Homo sapiens: one gene and its partners. The protein of the gene in region 1 interacts with the protein of each later gene in a pairwise test. Each region holds a gene or a part of one and is shown in the gene's direction. Other genes may lie near its edges.

The links.
Region 2: the proteins of TMEM187 (region 1) and GORAB interact in binary tests that used the Homo sapiens proteins (3 or more experiments, as listed by UniProt).
Region 3: the proteins of TMEM187 (region 1) and COMT interact in binary tests that used the Homo sapiens proteins (3 or more experiments, as listed by UniProt).
Region 4: the proteins of TMEM187 (region 1) and CGRRF1 interact in binary tests that used the Homo sapiens proteins (3 or more experiments, as listed by UniProt).

The regions. Positions count from the first base shown.
Region 1 is NC_000023.11:153,975,259-153,983,063, forward strand, and holds part of TMEM187 (transmembrane protein 187), read left to right. Parts: intron 1-5,838; exon of another isoform or gene 5,839-5,919; intron 5,920-6,591; 5' UTR 6,592-6,804; coding exon 6,805-7,590; 3' UTR 7,591-7,805.
Region 2 is NC_000001.11:170,534,771-170,542,575, forward strand, and holds part of GORAB (RAB6-interacting golgin), read left to right. Parts: intron 1-1,539; exon of another isoform or gene 1,540-1,651; intron 1,652-4,439; coding exon 4,440-4,797; exon of another isoform or gene 4,798-4,801; intron 4,802-7,720; coding exon 7,721-7,805.
Region 3 is NC_000022.11:19,937,096-19,944,823, forward strand, and holds the start of COMT (catechol O-methyltransferase), read left to right. Parts: upstream 1-4,708; 5' UTR 4,709-4,802; intron 4,803-7,728. Other genes in the region: TXNRD2 (thioredoxin reductase 2, mitochondrial isoform 5 precursor), read right to left, coding at 4,606-4,708; endogenous retrovirus group K member 24 Gag polyprotein-like, read left to right, coding at 1-731. UniProt on the Homo sapiens protein: Catalyzes the O-methylation, and thereby the inactivation, of catecholamine neurotransmitters and catechol hormones. Also shortens the biological half-lives of certain neuroactive drugs, like L-DOPA, alpha-methyl DOPA and isoproterenol.
Region 4 is NC_000014.9:54,505,405-54,513,456, forward strand, and holds the start of CGRRF1 (cell growth regulator with RING finger domain protein 1), read left to right. Parts: upstream 1-4,501; 5' UTR 4,502-4,555; coding exon 4,556-4,659; intron 4,660-8,052. UniProt on the Homo sapiens protein: Able to inhibit growth in several cell lines.

The DNA.
Region 1 (7,805 bases):
AAAATCTTTCCTGGAGCATTTCCCCATTTTCTTCTAGTAGTTTTATTTTATTTATTTTATTATTTGTATTTATTTATTTATTTATTTTTTGAGACACAGTCTCACTCTGAAACCCAGGCTGGAGTGCAGTGGCACAATCTTGGCTCACTGCAACCTTAGCCTCCTGGGATCAAGCGATTCTCCTGCCACACCCTCACAAGTAGCTGGGATTACAGGCGCATGCCACCACCCTGGCTAATTTTTATACTTTTAGTAGAGATGGGGTTTCACCATGTTGGACAGGCTGGGCTGGAACTCCTGACCTCAGGTGATCTGCCCGCCTCAGCCTCCCAGTGTGCTGGGATTACAGGTGTGAGCCACCACACCCAGCCTTTTTTTTTTTTTTTTTTTTTTTTTTTTTTTAAAGACAGAGTCTTGCTCTGTCGCCCCAGGCTGGAGTGCAGTGGTGTGATCTTGGCTCACTGCAACCTCCTCCTCTTGGGTTCAAGCATTTCTCCTGCCCCAGCCCCCTGAGTAACTGGGATTACAGATGTGCGCCACCACGCCCGGCTACTTTTTGTATTTTTAGTAGAGACGGGGTTGCACTGTGTTGGCCAGGCTGGTCTAGAACTCCTGACCTTAAGTGATCTGCCCGCCTCAACCTCCCAGTGTGCTGGGATTACAGGTGTGAGCCACCGCGCTGGCCTCTTCTAGTAGCTTTATAGTTTCAGGTCTTACTTTTAAGTCTTTAATCCATGTTGAGTTGATTACTGTGTGTGGTGAGAGATAGGGGCCTAGTTTTCATTCTTCTTCACATACTTATCCAATTTTCCCAGTGCCATTTATTGAAGAGACCATCCTTTCCCCAATGTAGGTTCTTCGTGCCTTTGTACTACTTATAATAGCTAAGATATGGAAGCAATCTAAGTGTCCACCAGTGGATTGATATGTAAAGAAAATGTGGTATAGATACATGATGGAATATTATTGAGCCATTTAAAAATAAACTGTTGGCGGGCGCGGTGTTTCAAGCCTGTAATCCCAGTACTTTGGGAGGCCAAGACGGCCAGATCACCTGAGATCAGGAGTTCGAGACCAGCCTGGCCAACATGGCGAAACCCCATCTCTACCAAAAATACAAGAATTAGCCAGGTGTGGTGGCAGGCGCCTATAATCCCAGCTACTTGGGAGGCTGAGGCAGGAGAATTGCTTGAACCTGGGAGACGCAGGCTGTGGTGAGCCGAGATTGTGCCACTGCACTCCAGCCTGGGTGACAGAGCGAGACCCTGTCTCAAAAAAAACCAAAACCAACTATAAAAAATAAAAAAAATAAAAAACTATTGGCTGGGTGCAGTAACTCACGCCTGTAATCCCAGCACTTTGGGAGGCCAAGGTGAGAGGGTCGCTTGAGCCTAGGAGTTTGAGACCAGTCTGGGCAACATAGCAAGACCCTGTCTTTCAAAAAAAATTTAAAAATTTGCCAGGCATGGTAACATGCCTGTGGTCCCATTTACCTGGGAGGCTGAAGTGAGAGGACCACTTGAGCCTGGGAGGTGGAGGCTGCAGTGAGCTGCAATCACACCACTGCACTCAGCCTGGGAGACAGAACGAGACCCTGTCTCAAAGAAATAAACAAACTAATAAGATAAATCTTGTTATTTGTGGCAACATGGATGAGCCTAGAGGACGTTATGTTAAGTGAAATAAGCCAGGAACAGAAAGATAAATATTGTATGTGTTAATTCTTATGTAAAATATTTAAAAAATCAAGCTCATGGAAATAGAAGCATAGTGGGTATTAGAAGCTGGAAAGATTAGAGAGTAGGGAAAGATTCGGAGGAGTCGGATAACAAATACAAAATGCCAGCTTCATAGCATGAATGGATCCTGCTGTTCTGCACTGTAGGGTGAGCACTGTTAACTACAATTTCTTGTGTATTTTCAAAAGACTATAAGAAAGGATTTGGAATGTTCCCAACACAAAGAAATGATAAATGTTCCAGGTGATGGATATGCTAATTACCTTGTTTGATCATTATACATTATATACATGTATCAAAATGTCACTCTATATGCTATTAAAAATAATAAAATAGGCTGGGCACAGTGGTTCACGCCTGTAATCCCGGCACTTTGGGAGGCTGAGGGGGACAGATCAGTTGAGGTCAGGAGTTCAATACCACCCCAGCCGATATGGCAAAATCCCATCTCTACTAAAATACAAAAATTAGCCGGGCGTGATGGCCCGCCTGTACTTCCAGCTACTCGGGAGGCTGAGGCAGGAGAATCGCTTGAACCCGGGAGGCGGAGGTTGCAGTGAGCCGAGATCCTGCCACTGTACCCCAGCCTGCCCCACAGAGCGAGACTCTGTCCCAAAAAATAAATAAAATAGGCCAGGTGTGGTGGCTCACGCCTGTCATCCCAGCACTTTGGGAGGCCGAGGCGGGCGGATCACTTGAGGTCAGGAGTTGGAGACCAGCCTGGCCAACATGGTGAAACCCTGTCTCTACTAAAAAAAATACAAAAAATTAGCTGTGCATGGTGGCGGGCGCCTGTAATCCCAGCTACTCAGGAGGCTGAGGCAGGAGAATCTCTTGAAAACGGGAGGCAGAGGTTGCAGTGAGGCAAGATCACACCACTCCAGCCTGGACAACAGTGCAGACAGTGCAAGATTCCGTCTCAATAAAAAAATAAAATAGGCCAGGCACGGTGGCTCATGCCTGTAATCCCAGCACTTTGGGAGGCCGAAGCAGGTAGATCACGAGGTCAGGAGTTGAAGACCAGCCTGACCAAGATGGTGAAACCCCGTCTCTACTAAAAATACAAAAATTAGCCGGGCTAATTTTAGTTGTAATCCCAGCTACTCAGGAGGCTGAGGCAGGAGAATCACTCAAACCCCGGAGGGAGAGGTTGTACTGAGCCGAGACCACGCCACTGCACTCCAGCCTGGGCGACAGAGCAAGAGTCTGTCTCAAAAAAACAAAATAAAATGAAGTAATAATAAAATAGTGCTAAGTGGTCTGCATATACAGATACTTTTTTTTTTTTTGAGACGGAGTCTCATTCTGTCGCCCAGGCTGGAGTGCAGTGGCACGATCTTGGCTCACTGCAACCTCCGCCTCCCAGGTTTGAGCGATTCTCCTGCCTCAGCCTCCCAAGTAGCTGGAACTACAGGCATGAGCCATCACGCCTGGCTAATTTTTGTATTTTAGTAGAGATGGGGTTTCACCATATTGGCCAGGGTGGTCTTGAACTCTTGACCTCAACTGATCCACCCACCTCAGCCACCCAGAGTGCTGGGATTACAGACGTGAGCCACCACGCCTGGCCACTTTTTTTTTTTTTTTTTTTTTTTTTGGGGGGGAGAGGGAGTTTCGCTCTTGTTGCCCAGGCTGGAGTGCAGTGGCGTGATCTCGGCTCACTGCAACCTCCGCCTCCCGGGCTCAAGCGATTCTCCTGCCTCAGCCTCCCGAGTAGCTGGGATTATAGGCATGTGCCACCACACCTGGCTAATTTTTTGTTTTGTTTTGTTTTGTTTTGTTTTGTTTTGTTTTGTTTTGTTTTTCTGAGATGAAGTCTCACTCTGCCGCCCAGGCTGGAGTGCAATGGCACGATCTTGGCTCACTGCAACCTCTGCCTCCTGGGTTCAAGCAATTCTCCCGTCTCAGCCTCCCAAGTAGCTGGGATTACAGGCGTGCGCCACCACGCCTGGTTAATTTTTTTGTATTTTTGTAGAGACAGGGTTTCACCATGTTGGCCAGACTGGTCTGGAACTCCTGACCTCAAGTGATCCACCCGCCTCTGCCTCCCAAAGTGTTGGGATTATAGGCGTGAGCCACCGTGCCCGGCCTAATTTTTTTGTATTTTTGGTAGAGACGGGGTTTCACCACATTGGCTAGGCTGGTCTCAAACTCCTGACCTCAGATGATCCACCTGCCTCGGCCTCCCAAAGTGCTAGGATTATAGGTGTGAGCCACTGCGCCTAGCTTTTTTTTTTTTAGAGATAGGGTCTTGCTCTGTGGCCCATAGCTCACTGCAGCCTCCATCTCCTGGGCTCAAGTGATCTTCCTGCCTCAGCCTCCTGAGGAGCTGGGACTATAGGTGCACCACCATGCCTGGCTAATTTTTATTTTATTTTTTAAATTTAATTTTATGTATTTTGTGTAGAGACAGGGTCTCACTTTGTTGCCCAGGCTGGTCTCAAACTCCTGGACTCAAGCAGTCCTCTCACCTTGGCCTTCCAAATTGCTGGGATTACAGATGTGAGCCACCATGCCCAGCTACATATGCTTTTTGATGTATAACAGGGTAATGTCCAGATAAACCCATCATAAGTCGAAAATATAGGAACTGGACTTTCAACTTAAGAGGGGTTTAGCTGGGTGCAGTGGCTCACTCCTGTAATCTCAGGACTTTGGGAGGCCAAGGCAGGAGGATCACTTGAGGCCAAGAGTTCGAGACCAGGCTGGGCAACATGGTGAGACCCTGTCTCTACAATTTTTTTTTTTTTTTTTTTTTAGATGGAGTCGCGCTCTGTCGCCCAGGTTGGAGTGCAGTGGCGCGATCTCAGCTCACTGCAAGCTCCGCCTCCAGGGTTCACGCCATTCTCCTGCCTCAGCCTCCCGAGTAGCTGGGACAACAGGCGCCCACCACCACGCCTGGCTATTTTTTGTATTGTTTTAGTAGAGACGGGGTTTCACCGTGTTAGCCAGGATGCTCTCGATCTCCTGACCTCGTGATCCACCCGCCTTGGCCTCCCAAAGTGCTGGGATTACAGGCATGAGCCACCATGCCTGGCCCAAAATTTTTTTAACAAAAATTAGCAGGGCAGGCCGGGCGCTGTGGTAGGGAGGCTGAGGTAGGAGAATGGCGTGAACCCGGGAGATGGAGCTTGCAGTGAGCCAAGATCGCACCACTGCACTCCAGCCTGGGCAACAGAGCAAGACTCCGTCTCAAAAAAAAAAAAAAAAATTAGCAGGGCAAGGTGGTGGTATATCCCTGGTCCCAACTACTTGGGAGGCTGAGGCAGGAGGATAGCTTGGGCCCAGGAGGTGGAGGCTGCAGTGAGCTGTGATTGTGCCACTGCACCCCAGCCTGGGCAACAGAGCAAGACCCCCGTGTCTAAATAAAAATACCCAGGCCATGGCAGCAGAAAGCAAGGAAGAAGCCACGTGGAAGCCCTCCTGGCGCTTCTTCCAGGGAGGTGAGCAGAGAGCACCTGGGGCCAGGAGGCGGCATGCCTGGGTTTCTGCTCCTCCTCACTGTAACTTTCAGCCAAGTCAAACTGCTAGAGTTTCAGTTTCTTTATCTGTGAAATGCCGGGGCTGGCACAGATGGTTTCTAAGATCCCTCCCAGGCCTGGAACTTCTAAGCGATTAGGTCAAAGGTGAGCTAACCGGGCTGGGCACAGTGGCTCATACCTGTGAATCCCAGCACTTTGGGAGGCTGAGGCGGGTGGATCACTTGAGGTCAGGAGTTCAAGACCAGCCTGGCCAACGTGGTGAAACCCCAACTCTACTAAAAATAGAAAAGTTAGCCGGGCATGGTGGTACACGCCTCTAATCACCGCTACTAGGGAGGCTGAGGCAGGAGAATCACCTGAACCTGGGAGGCGGAGGTTGCAGTGAGCCAAGATTGTGCCACTGCACTCTAGCCTGGGCAACAGAGTGAGACTCCGTCTCAAAAAAAAAAAAAAAGGTGCACAAACCGAGGCCCAAGACAGTTAAGGTGCAAGATCACATGGTTAGTAAGTGGGAGAGCCAAGGTTTGAACAGTCTGGCATCAGCTGACCAGGAACTGGAGCCCACCCTTCTCTCTCCCTGAGCCCGCCTACCCGCCCACCCTCTTGAGTGCGAAATTTATTAATATGGAAGGGAGAAGAGCTTTAATGATTGGAGTCATTTTCAGAGCATTAAAGCTCTTCTCCCTTCCATATTAATGTATTTCTCAGCTACTAGGGCTCACTTACAGCACCAGTGGCCCCAAAGCAGTTGACAGTCAGTGGTAATTAAATTGTCTCTCTGGTTCTGTGACTGAAGGAGACAGAAGGCTTTATGGTGGCCTGAGGAAAGAAGGTGATTTGGGGCTTGGCACTTCAGGAGAGGGCAGGCGAGTGAGCCAGGGAAGCTGGCCTGGGAAGCCTGCGGGTCACCCCCTTGCCTCCCGGCCTGGTGCTTGAGTGGCAGACGGTGAATCCTCCTCCTCCTCCATCCCCCACCTTGTGTCAGAGGCCAGAGCTCGGACTCCATCTAATGGTCTCTAGTTCAGCTGGGTATTTGGTGAAAAGGGCTTTGGGGCTGGAGACGTCCACTTTTATAACACACTGACATGGGAAGGCGCATTCTGAGTTGTAATGACAGAGCTAGACAGGTCTTGTCTGTAGATGCAGTGGCTTTAAGGAAACTAGGACGATGGGCAGGATTTTCCTAGGTGCCAGGAGAAAGGGGTGATAGAGGATTCTAGAGGCTTGAGAGAGTCAGTGTGCAGCGGTTTCACTCTGATTTGCTTCTCCAGTGAAGATGGTTGGTAGCTCCTGAGGCCGGGGGTCAGGAACATGGAGGCGGTGCTGGGGACGGTTTGTTTTCTAACCACACTCCTTTTGTAACCACAAAGGAAAAAGGCAGAACGTTCCTCCGCTGGCGCCAGCCAATCAGCAGGACTCCTGCCTTCCTTCGGGGCAAGGTCGCAGCATCTGCCTCGGAAATCACGAAATCACGGGGCTTCTTTCTGCTGGCTCAGCCGGGAGGCCCAGAGTGTTCTGCAGAGGCTGCGTATTGAAGGCTGCTCTCTGAAGCTCCCTGCCCCAGGTCACGCCGCCGGTTCCAGATGAATCCAGAGTGGGGGCAGGCCTTCGTGCACGTGGCCGTGGCCGGTGGCCTCTGTGCCGTGGCTGTGTTCACGGGCATTTTCGACAGTGTTTCCGTGCAAGTGGGCTATGAGCACTACGCCGAGGCGCCCGTGGCCGGCCTCCCTGCCTTCCTGGCCATGCCGTTCAACTCACTCGTGAACATGGCCTACACGCTGCTGGGGCTGTCGTGGCTGCACAGGGGCGGCGCGATGGGGCTGGGTCCCCGCTACCTGAAGGACGTGTTCGCAGCCATGGCCCTGCTCTATGGCCCCGTGCAGTGGCTGCGCCTGTGGACGCAGTGGCGCCGTGCCGCGGTGCTGGACCAGTGGCTCACACTGCCCATCTTTGCATGGCCCGTGGCCTGGTGCCTCTACCTAGACCGCGGCTGGCGGCCCTGGCTGTTCCTCTCTCTTGAGTGCGTCTCCCTGGCCAGTTATGGCCTCGCTCTGCTGCATCCCCAGGGCTTCGAGGTCGCACTGGGTGCTCACGTGGTGGCCGCTGTGGGGCAGGCGCTGCGCACCCACAGGCACTATGGCAGCACCACCTCGGCTACCTACTTAGCTTTGGGGGTGCTCTCTTGCCTGGGCTTTGTGGTCCTCAAGCTGTGTGACCATCAGCTCGCACGGTGGCGTCTCTTCCAGTGCCTCACAGGCCACTTCTGGTCCAAGGTCTGTGACGTGCTCCAGTTCCACTTTGCGTTTTTGTTTCTGACGCATTTCAACACTCACCCAAGATTCCATCCCTCTGGCGGGAAGACGCGTTGAACCCAGGGAAGAACCTGCTGAAAACCGATGACCCCCAGCATTGAAATGGACTCTGAGATGGCAGCGTGGTGCCAGTGTCAGACATCCTGTGTGTGATGATATGCACTGATCACACAAGACTGCCCTTTCCTGAGAAGCTGCGGGCTTCGGTGTGGAGGGGTGGAGTGCTGTGATCTCGACAACTTACTTTCAAAGACATAAAGCACAGATCTCCG
Region 2 (7,805 bases), on another chromosome or scaffold:
ACTCTCTGATGTTTGCGCAAGGACAAAATTGCCTTACAACACATTTCTTAGAATGTATCCCTTTGTTAAGTGACGTATGATTGTATATAGTGGGGAGGCGTGGGAATGTGATCAGGGAGAGGGAATTTCAGAGGTATTGGTATTTATGAAATCAGGTTAAGACAAGTTAAGCTAAAGTAACAAATAGCCCTAATAAGTCAATTGTTTAAAATAAAGATTTGGTTTTCACTCGTTTCATGTTTAATGTGGGTTTGGCAGGTGACTGTGTTGCACAGTCACTCCGTTTTTTGGTGCTGTCTTGTAGGAGTTTACCATAGTAGGAAGAAAAGAAGATTGAAAATTGAACATTGGCAATTAAATCCTTTCACCAGTAAATGACATGTGACACTCCTACTTTTATTTACCAAAAGCAAGTCATATAACTTGGGAGACAGGAAATAAATTCTCTCTTCTAAAAGGAGGATTATGTCTATCCTTAAAGAGTAGTTACTTCTACTACTGTCATATTTTATTTCTTAAACTTTCTTTTTAATCATATAGGTTGGAAGACTGAGTGTGTGTGTTTATGAGTGTAACACATGCATATATTTGATGTATGGTCTATTTCATAATGAAAAATTGGAAGAAAACAGTACAGCCACATGCTGTCAATTTTTAGTTAAATTATTTATTCAGAAGAGTTATTCTTCATACTGATTCTTTGCCAGTTACATTATGAATATCTTCTCCCAGTTTTTAAGTTATCTTTTCACTTTTATCTTTTTGATGAACAAAGTATTTTATTTTTTGAGACTGGCTTTCACTCTGTTGCCCAGGCTGAAGTGCAGTAGCACGATCATAGTTCACTATAACCTTGAACTCCTGGGCTCAAGCGATCCTCCTGCCTCAGACTTCCAAGTAGCTGGGATTACAGCTGTGTGCCATTACACCATGCTAGTTTTCTTCCTTTCTTTCTTCTTTTTTTTTCTGTAGGGATAGGATCTTGCTATTTTGCCTAGGTTGGTCTCAAACTCCTGGGTTCAAGAAATTCTTCCTCAGCCTCCCAAAGTGCTGAGATTACAGGCATGAGCCACCACTCCAGGCCTTAATTTTAATGTATTCAAATATGTCAACCTTTTTTTAATAGCCAACATTTCCATGTCTTAAGAAATTAGTTTCTTACTATACTTAGTATAGTAGTTACAGGTGTGAGCCACTGCACCCAGCCAGTATTCTTGACCTTCTATCTTTTCATATAAAAATTTTAATAATTTTACCAAATTTAATGGAAAACCCATTAGGAATTTTGATTGTAATTGCATTGAATCTTTAGATCAATTTCATCTTCATATTATTAACATTGCCACTAACGTGGTATATGTCTCCGTTTATTTAGTACTTGTTTAAATTCTCAATAAAATTTTAGAGTTTTCCCTATAGAGGTACTAAACATCTTTTTGTTAGATTTGTTCCTAGATAAGTAATAATTTCTGGTATTGAAATATATTCTCTTTAATTGTATTTTCTAATTGTTTTCTGCTGATATATAAAAAATACAAGACAAAAGAAAAGTCAACAAAAGACATGAATAGATATTTCCTAGAAAAGGAAATATGAAGAGATGCTCATCACCACCAAGGAGCAGAGAATTACAAATCAAGAATACAGTGAGGTACTATTTTACACCCATTTGATTGACAAAAATTAAAACATCTGACAGTATCGTGTATTGAAGAGAAAGTGCATCCACAGGATCTTATACATTACTAGAGGGAGCACACTTTGGAAAGCATTTTCACATTTCTTCTAAAGTTATATTTTGTGACTCAGTAGTTCTTAGATAATATCCAAAGCAAATTCTTGTACATGTAAAATAAGAGACACATTATTGAAATTTACAAAAGCAAAAACCTGTAACCAACCTAAATGTCTATCAGTGGAAGAAGATCAATAGACTCTGGTTTATTCACACAATGAAATGTTATACAACAAAATGAATGACTGCTGAAACATAGACAATATGAATGACTATTGACAGTGTAATATTAAGTAAAACAGATGTACAGCACAAAACCCTTTTTATAAAGTCAAACAACTAAGTAAATACTTTTTAGAAATATTTGTAGATGCAATATGACTATTAGAGAAGGAAGAGAATAATCAACATATGATTCAAATGATAGTTTTCTGAGGTGGAGGGAGCAGGGCTTAAATAAAGGATATGGAGTATATATCACAAACTGGTAGCCCATTAGCTTAATTTAACCCAAAAATGTATGTGGCTTTTCAGCTTTGCCTCCTTTCTTTCCCCTTCTTTCTTTTTTCCCTCCTTTCTTCCTGCCTGCCTTCCTTTCTTTCCCTTCTTCCCTCCCTCCCTCTTTCATTCCTTTCTTTCTTCTTTGTCTCTCTTTCTTTTATCCAATCTTTACATTTCTTTTAGTTAATAATGGTGATAATCATTGTGTTATTTGCTAAGCCAGCTATACCTGTTGCCTTTGTTTGGGGGTAGGTCCATGTACTAGGTTAGCCATTGCATTGTGAGCAGAAGTGTTATGTCACTACTGGGTCAGCAGTTAATTGCTATAGCAAGACCTTCCTGACCTCTCTCTTCTCCTTGTGTTGTGGTGGCCAGCAACACTGAATACTGACTGTACAGTCAGCCTAGAGCCTTGAGAGACTAATCAGCAGAACCTCTCTGTTAGCCTTTAGTTGGCACTTGGCATTAATGAAAAATAAACCTTTGTGGTTTAAAACCACTAAGATTTGCCCCTACAGCGTAATCTAGATTTTCCTGATTGAAACAGTTCCCTACATTTAAAAATCAAGATATTTTACATAAAAGTCTAAATTGTAATCATAAAAATCAAAATATCTGGCTATGGTGACCTAAATTTTTTAATGATAGCAATTGACTAAAGGTGACTCGGAATTTGCCCCCTTTACACTAGACTTACGCTTCTCAGTTCACCACAGTCTCCTTGATATTTGCAGCCCCTAATACAGAGTGTGGGAAGCAATATGTTCTGTGTTTAAGTGGCCTGATTTGCTTATTGTTTATTGTTTAAAATTAGCATTTTCAGTCTTATAGGTAGGTTCTGTAAAAATGCAAAATAAAATAGAAGTTACTACCTGAATTTCAGAGGAACTATTAATAATTCAGCTAATGAGTTCAACAGGGAGATAAGCAGGCTAAGTGACATTTTTTGATGGTGTGAATAAAGATCAGAGCCAAGAATGTGTTCCTGTTGCAAGATACAGGATACTTTGTGTTTCTGGCTAAAGTCAACAATAACATTTGCTTTTGATAGTACTTCAGTCTTTTAAAAAATATTTTCTGTACATATCTCATTTAATTCTTACACCAACTTCATGCATTAAGTAGAGCAGGTTAATTTTCAACCAGCTTGATAGATGAGGAAACTAAGGTATTGAATAAATAATTGACTTACCTGAGGTCACTGAGCTGGGCAGAAGCAAAGCTGGAATTGTGACTCTAGAGCTTTTAACTATACTTTGGGAAATTCAAATAATAAGCTTGTTTTGCTTCAAAAGTCAATATGCCAAATTTGAAAGTCCCATTTGAGTTGTTCATTTACAAGAACTGATAACTTCACTTCCCAGGCATTTAAGAGAGAATGCTATTTATAGATCTTATGAAATATAGTATGAATGTGGGTCAGATTCTCCAATTGTCTGCCCTAAGATGTTAACACTGGCATGGACAGTCCAAAAAGTATAATAGAAGTGTTATTATTTATAACTTTAAAGATATTTCCCCCCAGTTGTTTTATCTTCTATTGCTTTACTGAGGCTACTATTAAAATCAGTTTGAATGCATTGATTAGAGCCTGACTAGGCTTCGGGGAGTACAACCTTGGATTGTTCTGTAGGATGAAAGACAACAATTTAAGGTTAACTAGCATTCCTAGAAATAAGAGACTTCACTCAATTACATGCCTGTTATAGCATCTGAATATGTATCACATATGTACCAAATTGCCCTAAAAGCTGTTAAAATTTAAGAGAGGGTAATCCCATTTGAAAATGCAACCACCATTTTGTTTCAGTAGAGCAGACAGAACCATAAATCAAATTTAAAACCAGATAATTCAGTCACCTCCCTGATTTGGTCAAAATTAGTTGCTTTCTTTTGACAACTATGAAATCAAGTTGAAAAAGAAACTTCACTTTGTGACCTAAGGCCTAACTCACTGATGGACTTTCTCTGAAGATAAATTAAGAGATGGGGCAGTTTCTGTTAAATATTAACATTATGATCTGAAAACTATTGAAACTCTACAGGAAGATGGCTGTTTTTCCCCTAGACTTTCAAGATAGAGAATGGGGTAGGAGAACCACTAGAATTATCAACGTTTAATGTTAATTTTTTATTTTCTTAGAGGAATTATAATTATTTGCTGCCCACACAAAGGAATTTTCCTCTATTTTCTTTTACATAGATCCATTTGAACCACAGCGACGTCTCCCCGCGAAGAAAAGTCGACAACAACTTCAGCGAGAAAAAGCCCTTGTAGAGCAAAGCCAAAAACTTGGGCTTCAAGATGGATCAACCTCATTACTTCCAGAGCAGCTGCTTTCAGCACCAAAACAGAGAGTTAACGTTCAAAAACCACCTTTTTCTTCCCCTACTCTTCCGAGTCATTTCACTCTCACCTCCCCCGTTGGTGATGGACAACCACAGGGCATTGAAAGTCAGCCAAAGGAACTGGGACTTGAGAATTCCCATGATGGTCACAACAATGTTGAGATTCTACCTCCAAAGCCAGATTGCAAATTGGAGAAAAAGAAAGTGGAATTGTTAGTAAGTCTATGTGAAAAGTCCATGAGACTTTTCATTTAACCCGTTTTTTCCCAATGGGCTTTAAGGAAATATAATTTGTTTATTTTAACATTTTCTCTCCTTTATATTCATTCAATCATAGGAATGTGATGTATAAACTATTGAAAAATAGCTACTGCCTAAATATAAGCTGGACACAGGCATTCTGTATGTTTTATGTTCTTTAGTCTTCATAACAGCCTTACAATGCATGTTTATTATTTAAACTTTATACATGAGGTATCTGGGACTCAGAAAAGATGATACCTTTCTAAAGCTAATACACTGCTAGTAAATAGTAGAGATTTACAGATAAGTCTGTCTGGATCCAAAGTTTATGCCTTTTACACTGAGCAGAAGCAGTTCTTTTTTTCTTTCTTTTTTTTTTTTTTTTGAGATGGAGTCTCGCTCTGTTGCCCAGGCTGGAGTGCAATGGCGCAATCACAGCTCAGAAGCAGTTCTTATATGCATAGTGCCTCTGCCCAAATTGACCCCTTTTTTCAACTTCCAGACTATTTCCATTGGCCCAGAAATTGGAACTTGTGGAGAGACGTGAAGGGATGGTCAAAGGAGAGAGTGTAGGAAATTTAGGGGACTAATGATATAACTCAGTTCATCATTAGATTTCTTTTTATTTATTCTTTACTGTCTTTGTATTAGAAACAACCTTCATAATTTAGCTACACTGTTCTTGTGGAAGATGCCATTTTTTGATTTGCAAATTCTTAGAATTTTTTATTTGATAGCTTGTGTTTTAATATATACTCTTATTTCTTTGTTTGCTCCTGATTTATCTCTCACAGAGAAGGAATGACATTTTTCTGTTTTCTCTTTTCTGAGTTCTTTTCAAAGTATCTTTTTTTTTTTCTAATCTCTGACATCTTTTTAATCTCTGCTGATCCAGATTCTATCCTGTGAATTTAAAATGTTTCCTGTCCACTAGGGGTTTACAACTAAGAAATCATTTTGACAAGAGTTATAAAACCACATGAATTATGAAACCTATATTGAACAAGTGCATACATTAAAGTGTCTCTAAGTGTAGTTTACTAACAAAGGCCGGAGACAAATAGGAGGTAAGTTTACATTGAGCTGGACAATTTGGATTGGATGTTATAGGGAAACTTATTCTTTTTTTGGATACTTGGAAGAATTTTCATAAAAGACCTGTAACCTCAAACCATTCACGTAAAGGAGAAATTTTGAGGTTTTAAGGAGGAGAAAGGAAAGCTGTGTCCTAGAGAATGTTCAGAGATGATACCTCATTTCTCTGGGAGAGGTGGCAAAGGATAAGCCAGAGAACAGTAGAGAATTAAAGAAATGAGGAAGGAGGACAGGCGTGGTGGCCCACACCTATAATCCCAGCACTTTGGGAGGCTGAGGCAGGCACATCACTTGAGGCCAAGAGTTGAAACCAGCTTGGCCAACATGGGGAAACCCTGTCTCTACCAAAAATACAAAAAAATTAGCTGGGCGTGGTGGTGCATGCCTGTAGTCCCAGCTACTTGGGAGACTGAGGCACAAGAATTGCTTGAACCTGGGAGGTGGACGTTGCAGTGAGCCAAGATCATGCCACTGCATTCCAGCCTGGGCAACAGAGCAAGATTCTGTCCCAAAAAAAAAAAAAAAAAAAAAAAGCAGAACTGAGGAAGGATCAGAAGCAGAAGCAGGGGATGAATAAGTAGAGAATTAAAGAAATGAGAAAGGATCGGAAGCAGGGGATGCCTTCCTTCCTAGCAAGTTCACTAATGCAGCAAGTTACCATGAAGCTCTCTGAGGGCTAAAGGCCGCAATCAAAATAAAGGTTAGAGAAATCCCAGGTGTCAATATTGTAGATCATATGCAAGAGAGTGCATAGTGAGCTGTGGAACTAAGGCGCCTGGTGAGGAGATGCCTGCAGTAGTAAAAGTGAGAAATGACCAGTCCCAGCACTAAGGTGGAAGGTGTAGAAATGGAGAGAGAAGGACAATTTTGGAAGGGGCTACTAGATTTGGGAATAGAGGTATGTGATATAATGGCTGTAAGAAGTGACAGTAATAGGAATAAATAGCTTTGCCAATACCTTGTTTAATTTGAGTTGACATCAAGCTCATGACTTTATGGGAAATTTTAATGTATTTATTTTAGAATTGGACAGATTGTAAGACAATACATGTTTTCACATCTTTGAATTTTTTTCTTTAGCCCAGCATTCCAGTCTTAGCTCTTAGTGTTTTACTTTGTTTAAAAATGTCCAAGTTGGGCTGGGCACAGTGGCTCACACCTGTAATCCCAGCACTTAGGGAGGCAGAGGCGGGAGGATAGCTTGAGCCTAGGAGTTCGAGACCTGACTGGGTAATATAGCGACACCCTGTTCTCCACAAAAAGGAAAAAAGAAAGACAAAAAAAAGTCTTAAGAGTTGGGAAAAAGTGAGCAAATTGAAAGAAAATATTAATATATGAAATAAACATTGGTTATTGTCTGAAACATGTTAAGGTGGTGGAGACTTTATAGAAAACTCTAAAAGGTATAAATAATATGACATCAGCTACAAACCAATTTTTATTAATCTCCATTCTGCATATAATACATAATTAACTTACACAAATTTCTTTGTACTCCTAAACACATGCCACAGTATTCTGGCTTCCAGTTTGTGGATTCCTAGATTATATATATAATGGATTTCAGAGGTCCAATTTATGTAAGCCTCTTTACTTTAGATCGTAGTCTTTGTTCCCATTAGAGCAAAATAATGAACTGCAGATGGGTTTCTTTTAAGAGGACTTTTGAAAGAACATATACATAAATCTTCTTGATTAAATTTTATACTTAGAGGACTGAGACTGGTAAGGTGTTGGATAGGGTAGCAGTTTCTTTTTCTTTCATAAACTCATTTTTATGCTTTTTTTGCCCCCTAGGCAAGAAAAATCTCGTTGGGAAGTCCTCCAACAAGAACAACGGCTAATGGAAGAGAAAAATAAACGTAAAAAAGCTCTTTTGGCT
Region 3 (7,728 bases), on another chromosome or scaffold:
TGGCAAAAGCTGTTCTAACTCCATCTCAGCATTTACAATTCCATACCTGGTGGTCAGAGGAGGCCCGCCTGCAGGCTCAGCTAAATCGGGCTGATGGCATTCCAATTACTCAGGCTCAGCTCACAGGCTCCGATAATTACTCTGATACTACTGCTCATTTAGGCTTTGATGCTCTCACCACGGAACAAGTAACAAAGGTGTGTATGAGAGCTTGGGATAAATTACGCACCCCAGGCCAAGCTTCTGTTTCTTTTACTATTGTTAAACAGGGTCACAATGAATTATATCTTGATTTTTTAGCTAAATTACAAGATGCTGTTGAAAAATCTGTCTCTGATGAGCACACTCAAGGTATTCTTCTTCATATGTTAGCTTTTCAAAATGCGAACCATGAGTGTAAAATGGCCGTGCATTCCATCCTACGTCAAAATTTACCTGATCATGAGGTGTTGCCTGCATATATTAAAGCTTGTGAAGGCGTTGGATCGGAGACCCACAGAGCTATTCTGTGGGCACCGGCCATGAAGCACGGCAACCAAACTGGCTCGACTGATTCTTTTCTTGGAGCCTGCTATAATTGTGGCCAACTTGGTCATACCCAAAAAAACTACACTGTTAAAAACTTAAAAGCGGCCAAGCCGGCTCAACAAACACGGCCAAATGCTCCTGCTACTGTTTGCCTGCGTTGTCGTAAGGGTAAACATTGGGCAAGTACTTGCCACTCAGTCTGATATAGATGAAAATCCCTTGCCACAGAACCAGGGAAACAGGAAGCAAGGCCAGTCCCAGGCCCCAATATCAAATGGGACACCTCGGACTCAGACCAATGTTGTGTTTTTGCGTCAAGCAGTCCCAACGCAGCCCCCAGCACAAACAAATTTACCTACAGCCAATCCAGATGGGTCCCAGCCTCTTCTTCTGTCTCAGTACAATGCTTGTCTACCTCCACAGTAGGCAGCAGGGCGGTCGATCTCTGTAGTACCATTCCTCTAAATTTACTACCTAATTCTTTGCCTTTAATTGTCCCCATGGGGGTCACTGGCCCTTTACCTCAAGGTTCGGTGGGCCTGGTGTTAGGCAGGGCATCCACCTCATGATACTAAAGGTATCATAGTTCATACTAGTCTCATTAATTCTGATTCCTCTGATGAGATTAAACTTATGTAAACTTATGGTGTCTGCCAAAGTTCCTGTTTCCATTCCGGCCAGTGAGTCAATTGCTCAATTACTTTTACTACCTAACATTGTTTTAAACAAAGGAGATAAGACATGGGGCCCTGGGATGGGCTCCAGCGGTGAAAAAGCCGCTTATTGGATTAATGTAATTTCTAAACAATGGCCTACCTGCACCATACACATTCAAGGAAAAAAGGTTGAGGGCCTAGTTGATACTGGGGCTGATGTTTCTATTATTTCCTCTAATTTATGGCCTTCCTCCTGGCTTAAACATCCCACTAACATGAAACTAGAAGGTGTTAGAAAAGCTGAAGAAGTTCACCAGAGCACATTTATCTTGGCTTGCACTGGCCCTGATGGTCAAAAGGGAACAATTCAGCCTTATATCATGCCCATCCCCATTAATCTTCGGGGCAGAGATTTGCTGGCACAAATTGGGGCTGAAATTAATATTCCACATAACTTTTACAGTGCTCCCAGTCAACATATAATGGAAAACATGGGGTTTGTTTCCAGACTCGGTCTCGGTCCAAAACGTGAAAAAATTACTAAACCTCTTCAAGTTACTGTAAAAGAAGACAAGGCTGGTTTAAAAGCATAATTTAACTACTCCCCACTCCCAATTATATTTAGCATTGTTTAAGCTTTCTAAATGTTCCTAAAAACAATACTCTGACTGCAGCTAAATGCCATTATACAGGCAAAAAATTCTCCCTAAACGAAGGCAAGCCAGTGTCATGGAAAAACTCCCAAACCAATACCTGGGAACCTGGAACAATTATAACGTGGGGAAGAGGGTATGCTTGTGTTTTACCAGGAGATCGTCAATCCCGTCTGGGTGCCCACTAGGAGACTTAAACTTCGTGTGAATACTGACAATAAAAACCACGAGGAAGAGACGTTCGCGTCAGAGACTGCCCTCATACCTGATGAGATCTGTACCGACTCCTCAGAAACTGGCATGCCAAATCAAAATGGGTCTGGTTCAATCCTCCCTAATGGCAATGTAAACCCCTCTAACTAATCCCACTTCTCCTAATTATCTTTTTCTCCTTACGAACCTAAAAATCTCACCATTTCTATTAGCCTGAAAATAACATCCCTCTGTTCTTCTCTTCCTCCTTCAGCACTGGATCTCACTTACAATAGGTTTTATTTAATAATTATCTTCCTTACACTTTCTGTCTCACCAGTTTCCCCTTAAACTGATTTACCTGCTACACAAAATTATTCTTATTGGGCTTATGTGCCTTTTCCTCCACTTATTCGACCTCTCACCTGGATGGATGCTCCTGCAGAAATCTATACTAACGATAGTGTGTGGATGCCTGGAACTACAGATGACCGTTGCACCGCTCAGCCAGGAGAAGGCACTGCATTTAATGTTACTATGGGTTATAAATACCCTCCTCTGTGCCTTGGACATGCACCTGGTTGTATCCATCTAGAAGCTCAAGTCTGGGCTGCTTGTCTTCCAGAGAGATTAGCTATAGGGAAATGGGGACATTTGGTCTCTGGCCTCTCCCTTTCTCCTTTAAGACAAATAAAAAGAGGAGTAATAGGAGATACCCCATACTTTCAATATAAACCTGTAGGAAAACCATATCCTAAAAATTTTGAGGGCCCATCTAAAACTTCAATTTGGGAATGATTGTGTTAACTCACATGCAGTAGTATTAAAAAATGACTCGGCTGGGCGCAGTGGCTCATGCCTGTAATCCCAGCACTTTGGGAGGCCAAGGCAGGTGGATCATGAGGTCAGGAGATTGAGACCATCCTGGCTAATACAGTGAAATCCCGTCTCTACTAAAAATACAAAAAAAATTAGCCAGGCGTGGTGGCAGATGCCTGTAGTCCCAGCTACTCGGGAGGCTGAGGCAGGAGAATGGCGTGAACCCGGGAGGCGGAGCTTGCAGTGAGCTGAGATCGCACCACTGTACTCCAGCTTGGGCGACAGAGCAAGACACTGTCTCAAAAAAAAAAAAAAAAAAAAAACCCCAAAAAAACAACTCATATGGTTTAGTAACAGACTGGGCACGAAAGGGCTATTTAAAAAACAGTTGCTCCTCTGGCGGAAAGGAATGCCTGGAGACTACTTATTTTATTTCTTACTGGGAGGACCAGGATCATCATCCTATTTTGCATAGAAGGTTCAGTTTGTTCTTTCCCTTAAAATAGGAAGATAAGGGCATTATCCCCCTAAGTCTCGTATGATATTCCCCATTCTGAGTCCAGAATACCTAGAAATTTGGAATTTGGCTATTGCCGTGTCTGGACTGTGAGTATGGGAAGGGGAAGCTTTTCTGTCTGTTGTCCCCACTACCGCCCCTCACATCCGTGATTCTGAACCCCATGATAAATGCCCTTTGAACCTTTTTCCTCCTTTTGATGCCGAATCCCCTTTTATGGGACTCCGCCAGCACGGGTGCATTTAACCTTCCTGAGCTTGCCCACCTGACGCATGCAGCCAAGAAGCTTTGAAAGATGGAGTGCCCTGGCTGAGGGTTCCAGGTCTCAGCAAGGCCACGAGGTGGTGACTGCCTCCCAGAACTCTGTTGGGCCACCCTCCGTCCTGGAGACCCCCAAAACCTCCATAGCACCAACTCTGCCCATTCACACACACAGTCAGCCCTCCCTCCCGAGTCCACCGCGGGCAGAGGGCCAGCCACCATGCCTCCCATAGCCGCCATCCCTGGGAAGGAGCCCTGACCCCGTCCTTACACCCCTCTACACTCACTGCCTGTGGGGAGAGCTGCTCGCTGTCACAAGCATCCAGGGGGCTGGGTCGAGGGGCCCCCTGCATGGTGGGGGACCATGTTGTCGTGCATGGAATGAAACTGGCCACACATAACAGATATGGTGGCGCTCTGGTCGGATCTAGGGGAGTCTGTCCTACAGGATGAGGCTTGAACTGTCCTGAGTGACCAGACACCCAGCCTCTGCTTCGAGTGCTCAGTTATGATTATTGTCCTGATTTAGTTAACTGTTCTTCAGGGGCTCCAGGAGGACGAGTGTGTATCCTCCCATTGCTCTGTGCAGCCTCTAACCTCTAGAGTCTAGGGGTCTGGGGAGAAGTTGGGAAGTCTGGCCAGTGGGGCCGGTGCCTGGTGACCTCGGGAGGTGGGATATCATCATCTTCAGAACTGTAGTTGTTACTGGGATACCAGCTCTGGGAGACCACAGGTGCAGTCAGCACAGCAGGACCTTAGACAAGGCACCCAGCCCCAGTTTCCCCACCTGGGAAGGGGGCTACTTGTGGCTAGAAGCAGCCCGGACTCCTGAGCAAGACTAGACCAAGAGGCCGGTATGTGGACACCCCCGCGTGGGCACCCCCACGGGGACACCCTGGCCACCGCCGCGCGGACACCCTCACGAGGACACCCCGGCCGCGCGGACACCTACCGCGGGGACGCCCCGACCCCATCCTACCTGCTGCGCCCCGCGCCGCGCCCCGCACCCCGCCCGCCACGGCCTGCGTCCGCCACCGGAAGCGCCCTCCTAATCCCCGCAGCGCCACCGCCATTGCCGCCATCGTCGTGGGGCTTCTGGGGCAGCTAGGGCTGCCCGCCGCGCTGCCTGCGCCGGACCGGGGCGGGTCCAGTCCCGGGCGGGCCGTCGCGGGAGAGGTGAGAGCGCTGGCTAGACCGGGGCCGAATGCGGCCGGATTCGGGGCGGGGGCCTTCAGACCTAGGGTGGAACACTGGGATAGGGTGTGGGGAATTCGGACCGCTGTGAAGTGATCTGACGTTGGGTGGGAGTCTCCGGACTTGGGGTGGGGAATCTGGATGGGAACTGGGGAATTCGGACCTTGGGTGGGGATCTTTGGACCGGGGTGGGGTCCCCAGACTCCTTGTGGAAAGCTGAGGTTGAAGATCTGTGCTGTGATGAGGGGCTCCAGATAGCGGTGAGAGATCCCGCTTCAAGACTGGGTTGGGGGTCCAGACCAGGAGGATAAGCCTCTCCCTGGAGTAGGGCTTGACCTGGTGAGGGTGTGGTAGAGTCACAGGGGAGGGTCCCACTTGGTCCTTGGGCTGGGATCAGACTCTCAGAGCTGGAGAGTTGCAGGAGGCCTGGGGGAGGGTCTGTGGAGCCCCAGACTCAGAGGGCCTTGGTGACTTCTCCAACAGGCTCCCTGTTGGAGGCCTTGGGGTACCCCAGGGCCTTTCCCTGCAAGAGAGAGGCTGCTCCACCAGGAAGGGGCCCAGGACTCCCCAGGGTCGGGGGGATGTGTGGTGTGCAGGACCACGTGGGAATGTTAGAGAAAGGGGAAGTCACTCCGGGCCTGCCCTGCTAACAGACCTGCTTTTTGGATTTTTCCAGCCAGGGATTTTTGTGTCCTGTTGCTTTTTATTGTTTAAAGTGACCCTCCAAGCCTGAGGGACCGTAGGAGCTGCCCTGCAGAGCCCAGTGAGACACTAGTTAATGCAGAAAAAACAGATTTTACTTGGTAACTACTGACAACATGAGAAAAAGCTGGCTCCATGCTGATTTGTCTAGATGTGCCTGGAGTTTAAAGGGAGAGTGAGGGAGTGGGAAGGGGTGGGGACTCAGTAGAGTTAGGGAAACAGAAAATCACCAAAACTGGGAAGGGAGGGTTGGCCCCTGTGAAACCAACTGATCTGGGTTTGCCACTGGGGCTTACCGAAGTCAGGCCCCCAACCTCCCACAGAGACTGGGAGACAGGGGCCCCATCCTCAGGTGTTGGCTGGAACACACAGGAAATTCTTGTGGCAGCCTTGAACTTCTCAGGCAGGCACTTTAGAGGGGGCTAGGATCGTTCTGGGAATGTGGCCTTGAGCTGTTAGGAGCTATGTTAGTGTTCGTTCCAGCCTAGATAGGCCAGGGTGAGGCCCAGTGGAGAAGGGGACTCTAAGGAGCCTGGCTGGAGTGTGGGGAGGGAGGGTCTTTGTCAGCACTCCCCCTGTGCAAGAAGAGCAGAGACCTGCTTCTTTCCTCTCAACAGTCCCCGTCCATTTTCTGTTCTGTGTTGTGTTCATAAACTACCAGCGGGACCATCTGTTGAGACTTGGTAGCAAAGGATTTTTGCTGGATGATGCAAGCAGTCAAGCATTTAATGAGGAAACAAAAATAACAGGCCAGGCACAGTGGCTCATGTCTGTAATCCCAGCACTTTTGGAGGCCGAGGAGGATCACTTGAGGCCAGGAGTTTGAAACAAGCCTGGGCAACATAAAGACCCCATCTCTACAAAAAATTTAAAAATTAGCCCGGCGTGGTGGCATGGGCCTATAGTTCCAGCTACTTGGGAGGCTGAGGTGAAAAGATCGTTTGAGCCTGGGAGGCGGAGGCTGCCATGAGCCATGATCTTGCCTCTATACTCCAGCCTGAGCAACAGAGAGCCCCTATCTTTAAAAAAAAAAAATAATAATAAAATAAAAAAATAAAAAGAAAGAAAGAAATAAAAACAAAGATGAATGGAGCTGTTGATAAACCCAGTTTTTGAGCCTACAGGGCAGCAGTTGAGGTTTCTGGCCGTTGGGCCCTAACAAGGCCAGCAGGGGCACTCAGGGACTTCCTGGTGTGTGGTGTGAAGTCTGTGATGATGGCATAGGCATTGGTATCCCAGTTGTGGTTACTTTCTGGAGAGAGCATGTGGCATGCAGGAGCTGGAGGGGGGGTCTTCCTGGGCGGCCTGTGTAGCAGCAGCTCCAGGCACAAAGGCTGCCCCTGGAGAATCTGTTGTGGTTCTGAGTTCTTTCAAGTTTATATCAAGTTTTCCGGCTTCAGTCTGCAGGGCTGTTTTTTTCAGATCCTGGGGGCAAAGGGCAGCTACAAGACCACCTGAGTCCCAATAGGGATTTGAGTTCTTGGTGACACCAAGTCAGGGAGGAGACAAATTAGAAATGTCAGTCTGAAGAGAGTGGTAGGTAGCCAGATACTGAAGGAAAGTAGATGGGAGGATTTGGTAAGGGCTGACGTGTAGGAAGGCAGTGACAGTCCAAGTGACAGGCAGATCATAAAACCTCAAGGATAGGCCGGGCCCGGTGGCTCATGCCTGTAATCCCAAGCACTTCGGGAGGCCGAGGTGGGCAAATCACCCGAGTCCAGAAGTTCGAGACCAGCCTGGCTAACATGGCAAAACCCTGTCTCTACTAAAAATACAAAACATTAGCCGGGCGTGGTGGTGCACTCAGGAGGCTGAGGCGGGATAATCGCTTGAACTGGGAGGTGGGGGGCTGCAGTAAGCCGAGATCGCACCACTGCACTCCAGCCTGGGCAACAAGAGCGAAACTCCATCTCAAAAAAGAATTAGGCCGGGAGCGGTGGCTCACGCCTGTAATCCCAGCACTTTGGGAGGCCGAGGCGGGTGGATCACGAGGTCAGGAGATCGAGACCATCCTGGCTAACACGGTGAAACCCCATCTCTACTAAAAATACAAAATTAGCCAGGCGTGGTGGCGGGCACCTGTAGTCCCAGCTACTTGGGAGGCTGAGGCAGGAGAATGGTGTGAACCCGGGAGGTGGAGCTTGCAATGAGCCGAGATCACACCACTGCACTCCAGCCTGGGCGACACAGCAAGACTGCGTCTCAA
Region 4 (8,052 bases), on another chromosome or scaffold:
ACAGACAGAAATGTTGTCTTGGGCAGCCGCAAGACAATTAGATCTTCGCACTACAACACCCCAGACCCAGGGCTTATATCTTGGGAAAAGAGCATATGTGCTCTGGAAGGAATGTGTAGGTGGCTATGGGTGTCAGAGGAGAGCCTATGATTTCTGTAACAACAAGGGTTGTTTTGGAGGAAACTTAAAATGAATAGATGTTCCTGTTAGAGAAACCCCTGCTTTTCAGGCCTCTGGTTTAATAATGCATGAACAGAGGGACTCCATCTTGAGTGAGTAACTAAGCACTCACAAGGCTTATAAGGTTAATACTTCTGGTCGAAAATAGTCACATCTCAAGCTGACCACCACTTATAAATGCAGAGTATTTATAACCATACAGAGCATCTCCCACCAAGCCTTCAGAATGCCCAGATGTCCTAAGAGTGCAGCCCACTTTGCTTAAAGATACCATTAACTAAGAGGCTTGGGTTGAAGGATTGATTAATGGTCACCTGTAACACCAATAGCCCCTACCTTTAGTGAGCACATCTGCATGTTCCAAGTTTAATATTGCTCCTTTTAGTTTCTTATAAGTATAGAGGCACTAAAAAAGAATGGAATGTTCCTTCTCCTGCTGAAGACTCCTACTTTGTAACAGAGTAGTTTCCAATAAACTTGCTTATTTCACTGTTCTCTCTGACTCGCCTCAAAATCTTTCCTACACGAGATCCAAGAACCTGCTCTTAGGGTCTGCATCGGGACCATCTTTTCCAGCGATGTTTCTACATAAAGAGTAAGTAATCCCAGCACTTTGAGAGGCAGTGGCAGGAGAATCACTTGAGCTCAGAATGTTGAGGCTGCAGTGAGCTGTGATCATGCCACTGTATTCCAGCCTGGGTGAAAGAGCAAGACCCTGTCTCAAAAATTAAAATAAAATAAAGACAGTTTTGTCCCCACATCCCTCCAGGCTGGAATCTCAGGGAAGCAGGTGGTTGTAGCGGAAGCACCCAAATAGGTGGGGTATTGGGGCTGGGTGCAGTGGCTCACGCCTGTAATCCCAGCACTTTGGGAGGCCAAGGCGGGCAGATCACTGAGGTCAGTAGTTTAAGACTAGCCTGGTCAATGTGGTGAAACCCCGTTTCTACTAAAAATACAAAAATTAGCCAGGCATGATGGCGGGTGCCTGTAGTCCCAGCTACTCGGGAGGCTGAGGCAGGAGAATCTCTTGAACCCAGAAGGTGGAGGTTGCAGTGAGCCAAGATTGCTCCACTGCACGCCAGCCTGGGCGACAGAATGAGACTCTGTCTCCAAAAAAAAAAAAAAAAAAAAATTAAAAAACAAATAGGTGGGGTACTGGAGAAACTGAAGAGATCGGAGCTGGTAGTCCACTTTCCCTCTAGGAAAGGAGGAGAGGCCTTACATTTGGCTTGCTTCACACCACCTTCACCATGGTGCTAGAGCAATGGCATTCAGTGGCAGAGGTAGCCTGATTGGGCATCCTGAGATAACTGCTGCTTCTCAGTAGCCTGCATGTGACATATGTGAGAATCTACATGTTTACATATTGCCCCAGTAAGTAACATTGGAGATGGTAAGCAGTCTGGTGAGCTAGTGGAGCTAAGGAGCCATAGCTTATGAGGGTTTTACAACCAGAGGTAAATGGCTGGAACCCTGGATCTCCGCAGTGAGGGCTGGCCTGGTACCACAAAAAGCCAGATGAAACCCGCTTCCCCTTAGTGAGGACCTACAGGTGTCATGCAGAGCTGAGGTCTCATTTTCCTGACCTCCACCATCAGGTCATATGAACACCTTGTACAATCAGATACTGTCTTGGGAAGAATCAAGAGAAGAGAGAGGAGAGACTAAACATTTTCCTAAAGGAGACCAGCTTCCTAAAAGGTGCAATTAAACTTGAAGAGTCTAAGATACTTTTTTTTTTTTTTTTTTTTTGCCGGAATCTTATTCTGTCGCCCAGGCTGGAGTGCAGTGACACAATTTCAGCCCACTGCAACCTCCACCTCCCGGGTTCAAGCAATTCTCCTGCCTCAGCCTCCTGAGTAGCTGGGATTACAGGTGCCCGCCATCATGCTGGGCTAATTTTTGTATTTTTAGTAGAGATGGGGTTTTGCCATGTTGGCCAGGCTGGTCTCAAACTCCTGACCTCAGTTATCTGCCCACCTCAGCCTCTCAAAGTGCTGGGATTACAGACGTGAGCCACCATGCCCGGCCTAAGATACTTTTTATTGATAAATTTAAGCTCACATTGTCTTCTCTTTTTACCCCGTCTAATAGTAGGGTGGGGCTTCTTTCTTTTTCTTCTTTTTTGAGACAGGTTCTTGCTTTGCTTTTTTTTTTTTTTTTTTTGAGACAGCGTCTTGCTGTGTCACCCAGGCTGGAGTGTAGCGGCACAATCGTGGCTCACTGCAGCCTCAACCTCCCTTGCTCAAGCAATCCTTCTGCCTCGCCCAGTTAATTTTTTAATTTTTTGTAGAGACAGGGTCCCACTATGTCGCTGACGCTGGTCTCAATTCCTGGGCTCAAGCCATCTCCCTGCCTTGGTCTCCCAAAGTGCTGGCCTTGGTCTTCCAAAGTGCTGGCATTACAGGCATGAGCCACCATGCTGGGTCTAGGGTGGGGTTTCAAGCTAAACTAGATCAGTTATAGATAATAAAGAACAGTCATTCTTCCTGTTCATCTGAGAGTCAAACTTTTTTTTAAAAAACTCTAATATAGATACTTTGTGCTTCCAAGTAATCTCATGGAGAAAAGCTTATTTCATTTATTTATTAATTCAGTAATATGACTACCCGACATATACTAGGTACCGGTGGCACAAACATCAATTATGTGTCATTCCTGTGCTCAGAGAGCTGGGTTCCTAGCAGGCTAAATACACTAGTGAGCAGGTGCTCACACCAGAAATAAGAGGGCTCCCATACAGTTACATACTGGGTGCTTTGGGAGAGGCATCTCCCCAAGGGTTTGGAAGCATCCAGGAAGGCTTGCTGGAGAAGGGAGCCTTTCAGATTGGCCAATATTTTTGTTAAGTGACAATATCAAATGATGGCAAAACTGTGGATGAAAAACTGGGAATACAAATTGGTACATTTCTGGAGAGCAGTGTTTTTACAAAATCTTTAAAATGTACATTTTTTAAAACCATAGTTCCACCTCTAGTAATTTATCCTAAGGAAATACTTTAGCTGTAGGGATGTTCATTGCAGTGTTATTTATAGCAATGAAAAATTCTCCAACAGTTGAGGGCTGATTAAAGTATATATTTTCACAAATCAGATATATAGTAATTAAAAATTGTGTTGTAGAAGCAAGCTTCTCAAACAGTGCTGCTCCAGAGACTACGTGCTCATTTGCCAAGGAATATGTGAGGCCATAGGACAAACTTAGTTCATCTTTCTCAACACGAATTTTACTGGTGATTTAGGAGTGTGACAGAGGCTACTAGTTAACTATCCCAATGTCCATTCTCTTTCCTCCTCAGTAACAAAACTCTTGATTTGTACCAGGGTGTGTTGCTGCTCACGAATAATAAGACTACATATCCCCATTCTCTGATGTGGCTAGATGTGGCTTTAGGAGTAAATGCAAACCAACGAGGTGTCAATGAACTGTTATGAAAGACTTTCAGGGAGGCCACCTTGATGGAGCTGACTCACAGGGTTGAGACAAGGGAGTGACCATTTAGCTACTTTCAGTAATTTTTAAAAAGCTTCTGTGTGATTTAAAAAGTTTTTTAAAAATTATTCTTAAAGTGGAAACAAATACAGTTTCAAATGTTTGGCTAATTCTAATTTGAGGAGTACAAGAAGAGGAGAAAAGGAGGGGGATGTGGGAGGAAGCGGATGCTTTATTTCTAAGAGAATCTTGGATAAGCAATGCTGATTTTCCTCTATGATTAAGTCCAATCTGAAAAGGCTGACAAGTCTCGTATAAATTGCTTGTGGTAGAGACTCCTTTTTTTGTGTTTTCACTGTGCTTATGGTTATTTCATTTTGTAGAATCCAAGATGCCCGCCCTCCTCCTCCTCCTCCTCCACCCTCTCCCAAATTTGCCTAAGATATAATAGGCAGGGTTTCAGGATTTAGAAACGATGCACGTAGATTTCAGACTGCGCCTCTCTCTGACATCAGAAAACCTACATTGCCTAAGGCTGGCACAGAGTTGGCCCCAAAGTCTACTTAGAATTTGCCGGCGGAACAGCAATGACCACTGGGCCACAGCGCTTAAGACGCCCGCTGGGTACCAATCCTGGGAGTCGGGGGCGGTGCGAGTCGGGCCCCCCCCATCCCAGGTCTGCGTAGCCAATAGCTCGGGACGGGAGCGGGAGGGGCGTGGCGTGTCCGGCAGGGGGCGCCGTGATTGGCACGCCAGCTCCCGCTGTCCGCGAGGCTGCCCTAAAGTCTAGCTCATGAGAACCCCAGGCAAGTGCGGACCTACAAAGTTTGTCCGCTCCGGGGCACTGTAGTGGCTTTTACCCTGGCCGGGCGGGCGGGGCTCAGCCGGGCTGGGCTGGGCTCCGCGGCTGGAGCCGGGCTCTACCCAGAGCAAGACCCTGATGGCTGCGGTGTTTCTGGTAACGCTTTATGAATACTCGCCGCTTTTCTACATCGCGGTGGTCTTTACCTGCTTCATCGTGACCACCGGCCTGGTATTGGGATGGTAAGTGTCCCAGGGGTGAGAGACGAAGGGGCGGATACCGCCAGAGTGGGGTCGCGACGAGCAGCAGGGGGCACCGGAGCCGGAGGGCCGCGGGCCGGAGGACGTCGGGGATTCGGTGTCCCCGGGTGCCTAGAACTCCGACTTTCTCTGGGAGGAAAACAAGGTGGACGCTGCACCTGCGTCACTGCCCTGCATCACCGTTTGGTCCGTGTCGCTGGGGCATCTTGGGGTGGTACCGCATTGGGGTGTTTTACTCAGCTTTGTTTCTAGGCGATAAAGCAGCCAGGAAGGGCTTGGGCTTGGGCTTGGTGTTGGGAGAAAGTGCTTCTCTAGTAGGCTTCTGTCCCGGATTCGGGCCTACTGTGTGTCCTGGATGAGTTAGTCACCTGTGCTACAGTGCACAGACTGGACAGTAAGCGAGGTTAACAGTTGTGATTCTGACCTGAATGGAGCCCTTAGCCTCAGATCTTTCAGAGTAACTTGTAACTGAACTGTTACCGTTTGAGAATTTAATGGTTTCTGTATACATTCCACACCTTTTGAAGTAATATTTAGTCGATAGAATTGTAAAATCATAATTTTAGAGCTGGAAGAGACCTTAGAAATATGTAACACCGAGGGTAGGACAGTTGCCTATTGGAGACAAGGAGAATGGTCTGTTAGATAACCGCTGAGCAATTCTTCTAGCCTAGAGGTTCAATTTCTCTCTTGAGGAGATGCTATTGTATCATGTTTAGACAAGCCTTGTAAATAACGAGTTGAAACCGTGTAACTAGCCCACAACAGTTTTTCTAGGCTGCAGCCTCCAAAATCCCTTTGAGATGATAATAGTTACAAAAAGATCAAACAGCAGTTCTAAGTGGATAACAGCCATGGTCTGAAGAGGTCAGAGGGGACTCTGTTGAAGAGGGACATGAGCTGGATTTTGGAGAATGAGCATTTTGAAAAATAAATGGAGTTAAATGTATATAGTAGGGAAGAAAAAGCATCTCAGAGAAGACAGCATGAGCATAGGGGCAGAGAACATGTTAGTGAATAAAGAAGGCTACGTAAAACGAGTTTTAAAATAGCCTTTGGTCACATATATGTGATTGCCTTAAAGAACACGGGCCCTTGTCGGTTTCTGAAAATATATGCCATCTTTAGGAAGTGACAAAAGTTTTAACCTGTCCACACTGCTCCTCACCCTACCAGCAATAGAGCATAGAATTCCTTGCCTTGTATGTGGGTGAGGATTGGAAATACAAATTCCTTATTTGTGGGGGTAAGATTGGAAAACAAAGACCAATCTTACACAATTGGTTATTCTTGACCCATCAGATTTTATTGCTAATGTTCATTACACAAAAGTTTGTAATTGGAATGAGGAAGGTGTTGCCCATGTGAGAAAAGCAGTCTTAACACAAGATTTTTAAATGACTATAATGTTAGTGTTATTCTCTTAATGAAGCATAATTTTCCTCCACTAAGGAAAATAGTAACTAGTTGATAATTGCCTTATGTGCTTTAATTTTTATTTTAAATAGGCCAACTAATTAGATATCTTAGATATCAATCTTTAGTATTGGGAAGAGGGTAGTCAGGAGCCTCATGTTTGTAGTGGTTAACAGACAGACTTTGGAGTCAGTCAGACATAGGTTCAAATCCTGGCTCTGCCAGCTTTAAGACTTGGTTTGAAAATTTAATAATTGCCAAATCACCCCATTTAGGTAAGACTTTTTACAAGAGTGGAAGCCCATGTAATTATAGAACGTTTGGAAGTCTGGGCTAAGCACTGCTGAGGCCACAAGACCATGTAAATCCAGTCACTTCCATCCTAATTTAGGCCTAACCAGTCATCTTGTGCCTAACCCAACCATTCTCTCCATCCGAGTTAGTTTTGCCCACGTAGATAAACTTTTTACTATGTTTATTTGCAAACTTAAGCCAAGGCCATGTATTTATTGACTAGAAATGATGAAAACTTGGACACCATCTAAATCGCATAAAAACATCTTTCTAATAGTACCAATAGTACCCCAGTCAGAAGGGTAAACTAGTTAATACGCATGTTTTTCACCCTTGTCATTGTTTTGTTTTGTTTTAACCTCCCATAATACCATCTCTACTGTTCATGTGTTTTCTGTCATGGTTTTTCCCTTGGTACTTCTCTGAGTTTTTCACTATTTGCTTCTTTCCACTGTTTGCCATGTCTGCCTGCACTGTGTGGGAGTGGAGAAAAAACAGGAGCATATGATTATTGGAATCCCAATAGCAATAGCAAAGAAGCATGCAACTGGAAATATAGTATTTTTCTTTCACCATGTGGTGGTTTCTGTGATCTCTGATAGCTTTCTGCAGGCACTGAGCACAAAGAAGCCCAAAAGTCCATTTACATCCTTTAACAGTTTCAAATAATCAGGGACCATGACTCCAGTAGCTATTCCCGGCCTCCTCTTGACCACAGTTTATTAAGCTGTTGACCTCAACTTCATACCACCCTCTGCTTTGTGAATCTAGGGCAGAACTCTAAACTACATTTCTTCTTTGCAAGCTGACTGCCCATTGGGCTTTGCCAACAAGGGAGGGAGACTGGAAAGCTGGAAGAGGATGAAGGGACTTGCTGCTTCCTGTTGATTCCTTTTCTTGTCTGTCACTTGCCACAATAGTGCCTCACTCTGGCATTAATAGTTGGTCCCACTTGTTCCAGTTTATGCTTTCCTACTCTGCTAGAATCAGCCTTATGCACTTCCTTAAAGATACCAGTATCCTTTCCTCAGATCTGAGTCCTGAGCTCCATAGAGTCTCTCCTCCACATTTCTAAACTATAGTAAATTCTCTTTATTCTCTTTTCTCTGTTCCCTTGTCCTAGGAGTGATAGCTGCTTCCTGCTGTTACTACTTCTTATCACATAAGTAGGACTCAGTGTCCTCTTTTTGCCTTTTCAGTTCTTCAACATATGGTTAACATTTTTCATATGAAAATTTCTCTTGATGTTGATGCTGACAACTTTAAAAATCAAGTCCAATCTCTCTGTTAAAATAACGGATGCATTTTCAGACTCCTGCCTGGACCCTGACTGATAAAGAAATTGTCACTAAGAATGGGATCCTGGTGAGAAAACTTTCAAAGATAGAATTTGGGGGCATCGGTTTGGTAATTTCTTTAGCTCTTTGCCAATGGGAAATAATCTAGTAACCCACAACATGTAGTGGCATCACAATCAAATTGATACATTTGGTTGATTGTGATAAAATTATTTCTGAAGCTGTGTGCTGGAGGACCAAGTGGCTAAAGCGCTTGACTGTTAATGGCAGTAATGATGACTACAGGGACTGAGGGAGAAGTGAGAAGTGAGATAGGTGCTTCTTTGTTCACTGGAGCACTGACAGAAAGCAAATGACAAACTCAGGT